Linked DNA regions of Homo sapiens. The protein of the gene in region 2 purifies or fractionates together with the protein of the main gene of each other region. This does not show direct contact. Each region holds a gene or a part of one and is shown on either strand. Other genes may lie near its edges.

The links.
Region 1: the proteins of CBX3 (region 2) and CHAF1A purify together in Homo sapiens (affinity purification with mass spectrometry; 5 studies listed by BioGRID and IntAct, with this or other methods). This does not show direct contact.

What each region holds. Positions count from the first base shown.
Region 1 is NC_000019.10:4,405,640-4,409,139, forward strand, and holds part of CHAF1A (chromatin assembly factor 1 subunit A), read left to right. Parts: intron 1-272; coding exon 273-323; intron 324-3,263; coding exon 3,264-3,500. UniProt on the Homo sapiens protein: Acts as a component of the histone chaperone complex chromatin assembly factor 1 (CAF-1), which assembles histone octamers onto DNA during replication and repair.
Region 2 is NC_000007.14:26,208,245-26,211,744, reverse strand, and holds part of CBX3 (chromobox protein homolog 3), read right to left. Parts: intron 3,353-3,500; coding exon 3,190-3,352; intron 84-3,189; coding exon 1-83.

The DNA of each region.
Region 1 (3,500 bases), on a different chromosome or scaffold from region 2:
CCATATAATTCTTCATTGTGGTGTGCTGTGCATTGCATTGTGGGACATTTAGCAGAATCCCTGGCCTCTACCCACTGGATGTGAATAGCATCCCTTTGAGCCCTCCCTGCATCATGACAACCAAAAACATCTCTAGACTGTGTCAAATGGCCCCCGAGGACAGAGGGGTCAGAATTGCCTCCACCTTGTACATAATTGGCTCTACATATGTATTTGCTAACTTGATTATTTGCAGAATTTAACAGTTTACCCTTTGACACTTTTATTTGCAGCCATGGATTGCAAAGATAGACCAGCTTTTCCAGTTAAGAAGTTAATACAAGGTAATTATTTGGAAATGGGTTAAAGAGTTGTTCGTAGTTTATAGTCTTCCTTGTCTCTTGTTGGAGACCTCAGTGGAAGCCTGGAGCTAGAGGGGAGAGAAACAGTCCTTCTTCAGACCAGGAAGCTGGGAAAATGCTTTTCACACAGTAATGTCTCGTGGGGTTCCCACAAGTAAACCCCGAGGCCTCCACTTATGCACGATTGGTGTTTTGTAACTTGCAGCTGGGAGCTCTCCTGTATGTTGTAGGGAGCGTAGCAGCATCCCTGGCCTCTTCCCACCGGATGCCAGTAAGTGCATCCTCCAAGTCGTAACAACCAAAAATATCTCTATACGTGGCTGATGTCCCCTGGGAGGTAGAACTGCCCCCTCAGAGAACCACTGTTGTCCTGGAAGATAAATGCTCCCAAATCCTTCTGCATAAAACGGGGAGTGTGTTCACCCTTGGGCCAGATGAGCGGTTGGATTGTAATTTTTTTTTTTTTTTTTTTGAGACGGAGTCTCATTCTGTTGCCCAGGCTGGAGTGCAGTGGTGCGATCTCTGCTCACTGCAACCTCCGCCTCCTGGGTTCAAGCAATTCTCCTCCTTCAGCCTCCCAAGTAGCTGGGATTACAGGCGCGTGCCACCACACCCAGCTAATTTTTCTATTTTTAGTAGAGATGGGGTTTTACCATGTTGGCCGGGATGGTCTCGATCTCCTGACCTTGTGATCCCCCTGCCTCAGCCTTTCAAAGTGCTGGGATTACAGGTGTGAGCCACCGCACCCGGCCCAGATTGTATTTTTAGAAACTACAGTTTTGGGTTTTTCAAACTTGGGCTGGGTGCAGTGTTGCATACCTGTAAAACCAGCTATTTGAGAGGCTGGGGTGGGAGGAGTGCTTGAGTCCAGGAGTTCAAGGCTGCGGTGAATTATAATGACACCACTGCTCTTCAGCCTGGATGACAGAGGAAGACTCTGTCTCTTGAAAAAAAGGGGGACGCCAGATGCTAGGCTCACACCTGTAATCCTAGCACTTTGGGAAGCTAAGGTGGGCGGATTGTCTGAGCTCAGGAGTTTGAAACCAGCCTGGCCAACATGGTGAAACCCCGTCTCTACTAAAATACAAAATAGCTGGGCATGGTAGGGGGCACCTGTAGTCCCAGCTACTCAGGAGGCCGAGGCAAGAGAATTGTTTGAACCCGGAAGGAAGAGGTTGCAGTGAGCCAAGGGTGCGCCACTGCACTCCAGCCTGGTGACAGAGCAAGACTCTGTCTCAAAACAAACAACTCCCCCCACACCCCCCCCAAAAAAAAACAGGTTTTTATTTGGTCTATTACATGATGAAATAGTTAATAAAAGATGCAATGGCATTGAAGTAAGTGAACATAGGTTCTTTGGGAAATTCACTCTCCAAAGTGTTTCTGTGTTCCTCCTAACCAGCCCGAAGCCTGGCAGACTCTGGGAGAACAGTTTGATTGATGAGAAAAGCCTAACAGAGCCTAGGGTGCTGAGGCCAGGAGAAAAAAAAAAAACCCTGTCCACAAATGTGTCTATATTTTCTACTTGAGAACCAGATGCAGTTATTATCAAATGAGATTTTCACCCATTAAAAATAAATTTGGAATATGAACTGCATCTGAAATAAACAAATGTCTCTTGAAATTCTGGCGATGGCTCTGCTAAAAGGCTTGTCAGGATTTTGTTTTTTAAGTTAGGATGTTGAAGCGGGGCATGGTGACTCACATCTGTAGTCCCAGCACCTTGGGAGGTGGAGGCGGGCAGATCACCTGAGGTCAGGAGTTTGAGACCAGCCTGGCCAACATGGCGAAACCCTGTCTCTACTAAAAATACAAAAATTAGCTGGGTGTAGTAGTGCATGCCTGTAATCCCAGCTACTTGAGAAGCTGAGGCAGGAGAATAGCTTGAACCCAGGAGGTGGAGGTTGCAGTGAGCTGAGGTGGCGCCATTGCACTCCAACATGGGTGACGAGCAAGACTGTCTCCAAAAGAAAAAAAAATAAGTAAAATTAGGATGTTAGAAAAGGATAGAATGAAAAGATAGCACCCCCCACCCCCTCTTTTTTTTTGAGACGAGGTCCCTTTTGCCCAGGCTGCAGAGTAGTTGCACCACCACAGCTCACTGCAGCCTCTACCTCCTGGGCTCAAGCGATCCTCCTGCCTCAGCCTCCCGAAGTGCTGGGATTATAGATGTAAGTCAGTGTACCTGGCTTCAGATAGCCCCTGCCCCGTCTTTTTTTTTTTTTTTTCTTTTGAGAGTTTCGCTCAGGTCGCCCAGGCTGGAGTGCAGTGGCGTGATCTCAGCTCACTGCAGGCTCCGCCCCCCGGGTTCACACCATTCTCCTGCCTCAGTCTCCCGAGTAGCTGGGAATGCAGGCGCCCGCCACCTCACCCGGCTAATTTTTTGTACTTTTAGTAGAGACGGGGTTTCACCGTGTTAGCCAGGATGGTCTCGATCTCCTGACCTTGTGATCCGCCTGCCTTGGCCTCCCGCACCCGGCCTTTTTTTTTTTTTTTTTTTTTTTTTTTTTTGAGAGGGAGTCTGTCTCTGTCGCCCAGGCTACAGTGCAGTGTTGGGATCTCAGCTCACTTCAACCTCTGCCTCCCAGGTTCAAGCGATTCTCCTACCTCAGCCTCCTCAGTAACTGGTATTACAGGCGTGTGCCACCATGGCCTGGCTAATTTTTGTAGTTTTAGAAAAGACGGGGTTTCACCATTTTGGTCTGGCTGGTCTCAAACTCCTGACCTTGTGATCTGCTTGCCTCGGCCTCCCCAAAGTGCTGGGATTACAGGCATGAGCCACCACACCCGGCCCAGATAGTCCCTTTTTAAACTTTAAAATTATCTCCCACCCCCATGTCCCAACAAATCAGTAATTTTCAAGCTCATGAGTGGTTGTAACTTTAAACGTTCACTAGAGATGGCTTTCTGTCTTTGTTTCAGCCCGTCTGCCGTTTAAGCGCCTGAATCTTGTCCCAAAGGGGAAAGCCGATGACATGTCAGACGATCAGGGTACTTCTGTGCAAAGTAAAAGCCCCGATTTAGAGGCCTCTTTGGACACCTTGGAAAACAACTGTCATGTGGGTTCTGACATAGACTTTAGACCGAAACTTGTCAACGGGAAGGGTCCCTTAGATAACTTTTTAAGAAATAGAATCGAAACCAGTATTGGCCAGAGCA
Region 2 (3,500 bases):
AACATCAATTCTCCACTGCTGTCTGTGGCACCAATTATTCTTTCAGGATCAAGACCTCTGGCAAATCCTCTTGGTTTGTCAGCCTGTTTAGAAGACATTTTTTCATACAGCAAACTCAGAGTATTAAATTGTTTTCATGGCGTATTTTAAATAAAAACATTCCAATAGTGAGATGGAAATGACTAGAGCAAGAACCCATATTTGGTAATTAAAAACATCTGATTTCCATTAACTTTACAAGCAGAAAAACCTGAGTTTGATACTCAACGTAGAATACTTAAAATTTCTGAAAACATTCAGAATAAAAAGTCAAGAAAATTACTGCGTTCAATGACACCAAAGTCAGAGTTGTGTGGGCATACAGAAAAACTAACCTCTTTATTTCTGGTAATAATAAAGTCTTGAAAGTTAATATATTTCAAATGACTTCCAGGAATTAGTCTGAATTACTGACACATTTTAAAAGCATAAACAAAACACAAACGGTAAGAAATATTAAAAATGTTAAAACTCATACCAACTATCTGTAATCATTCTAAATGATAGTAAATGTTAGAACAAACTTGTGTAACCTGTGGCCCAGGATGGCTTTGGAGGCCCAACACAAATTTGTAAACTTTCTTAAAACATTGAAACTTTCTTGCGATTTTTTTTTTTTTTTTTTTTAGCTCATCAGCTATGGTTGGTATTAAGTCTATTTTATGTGTAGCCCTCGACAATTCTCCTAATGTGGCCCAGGGCTGCCAAAAGATTGGACCCCCTGCGCTAGAAAGTACTTAATATAAACCAGTGGCTCTCAAAATGTGGTCTACGGATTCACTGGGGATTCCAGAGTCCTTTTTGGGAGGGGGTTGTGTAAGGCCCCCTTTTTTCATCTATTTGTGACTTTGGATTGTCTTCATATACCTCCACCAAAATGATCCGCCACAGCAATCAAATGTGTTTAAGTAAAATTGCCTTAAGACACATGTTGAATATCTGTAAAAATGTAAAATGCTACTCTTCTCAGCTTTTTTAGAAAAGTCATTTTAGAAATTTGTTTTAATTTCTACTGTTAGTATTGATAATTATAACCCATATAAACAAAAGCTCTCTGGGGATCCTCAATAATTTTTTTAGAGTATAAAGAGGCCCTGAGACCAAAAAAAGTTTGAGAACCAATGATATCAATAAATCCTTTATTCCTGTCAGAGTTTTACATCAATGTCACAAGCTCTGGAGTCACACTGCCTGGGTGAGAATGATGGACCTACCCCACTTACGAGCTGTGTGGCTTTGGGCAAGTTAATTAACCTCTTTGTGGTTTAGGTTAATAAAACAGAATTTTAGTATCTACTGCACAGATATTTCACAGCACATTAAAAGCAAATAATTTGGCACACAGTATAGCACATGCTAAGGACTCAATAAGTGTTGTTAAAGTTGTGCCTGATTTATTATTTAATAATTTTTTGAGACAAGGTCTTGCTCCGTTGCCTAGGCCAAAGTGCACTGGCATGATCACAGCTCACTGCACCTTGAACTCCCAGGCTCAAGCAATCCTTCTGCCTCAGCCTCCCAAGTAGCTGAGACTACAGGAGGTGTCCACCACGTCTTGCTGATTCTTTTTTTTTTCTTTGTAGAGATGGGGTCTCACTATGTTGCCCAAACTGGCCTCCAACTCCTGGGCTCAAGCGATGTTCCTGCTTTGGTTTCCCAAGGTGCTGGGATTATAGGTGCGAGCCACCGTGCCTGGCCAAAACTGCTTCTGTTGAGCATGTGATTTATTTTCAAAACCAAATTTGTAGTCAATCTCGTTTCCTCATCTGTAAAATAGTGATTATACCTATGACCTTATACAGAGTTGTCTTGAAGGTTGTACTTGGCTTCTAGTTCAAATGATCAAGTTTTAAATCATGTTTAGTGCCTGAGCCTAGAACCTAATTCAGCACCAAGATGTTTCCCCAAATTGCCACACTAGGTCAGTAGGCAAGACAAGTATAATCTGTTTTACAATCAAGGGTGTAAGTAAGAAGTTACCTGATTTGCCTGACGCCACAGAGACATAAGTAAAGCAAAGACTGGACCAAAACACATGTATAGTGAATGAACTGAATGTCTCAATTCATGCCAAGAAAAGTGTTTAACTATTATCAAAGATTACAGACTTCAAAATCAAGGTATTGTTTGGCAATACAAAGATGACATGCAAGTACTTTTCGGTGGTCAATGCCATTGATGGACTATAATCAGAAAGTTCTATTTGCGTTGTTCTTACTGTAGTGCAAAGGCTTTCGATAATCCAATCTTAGTATTGTTTGTATTTAAGATTGCTAGCCTTGGATCACAGGTAATTGGTCTGATCAGGGATCAAATCCATGAAACTAAGAAAAATTGCACTAGCACAACCTAAGTGGCATGAGCACTTACTGCACATTTACACAAAGTAGGCTAAACCACGCCCATCCTTATTGTCCTAAGTATTAAAATATTTAAAATACGATTAAGAGGCCTTTTATAAAAGTATCTGAATTTTAAAAAAGCAAGTCGTCAAAGGTGGGCTTGGTGTGGTGGTTCACGCCTGTAATCCCAGCACTCTGGGAGGCCGAGGCGGGTGGATCACCTGATGTCAGGAGTTTGAGATCAGTCTGGCCAACATGGTGAAACCCCGTCTCTACTAAATATACAAAAACCAGCTGGGTGTGGTGGTACACGCTTGTAATCCCAGCTACTCTGGAGGCGGAGGTTGCAGTGAGCCGAAACTGCACCACTACACTCCAGCCTGGGTGACAGAGGGAGACTCTGTCTCCCAGGAAAAAAAAAAAAAAAAAAAAAAAAAAAAAAAAAAGGCCAGGCGTGGTGGCTCATGCCTACAATCCCAACACTTTGGGAGGCCGAGGCGGGAGGATCATGAGGTCAGGAGTTCAAGACCAGCCTGGCCAACATGGCAAAACCCCATCTCTACTAAAAGTACCAAAATTAGCTGGGCGTGGTGGTGGGCACCTATAATCCCAGCTACTTGGGAGGCTCAGGCAGGAGAATCGCTTGAACCCAGGAGGCGGCAGTTGCAGTGACCAAGATCATGCCATTGCACTCCAGCCTGGGCGACAAGAGCAAGACTCCATCTCAAAAAAACAAACAAACAAAAAAGAAATCAAGCCATCAACCTTTTACAAAAGGACAAGCTGGTGGGCAATATTTTATACTTACAGCATCTCTTTTCTTCTTTGATTTGCTGTCATCAGATTCACTGTCAGATAAAGATTTTCTTTTTGTACCATCTTTTTCTTTGCCAGCTTTCTGAGAGTTAAGAAACGCTTCAATCAATTCTGGACAATCTAAATTTTCTTCAGGTTCCCAAGTATTGTCAGCACTGTGTTTAGTTTATTAAAAAAAAAAAAGGTGATTGAATTAAATATGATTCATCACCATTATCCAGATCTATTTTAATAGACACCCGGGGGAATAAAAAGTCCTCTGTACTGCAGATACTAATCATTTCCTCCTTCCCTACATTACCC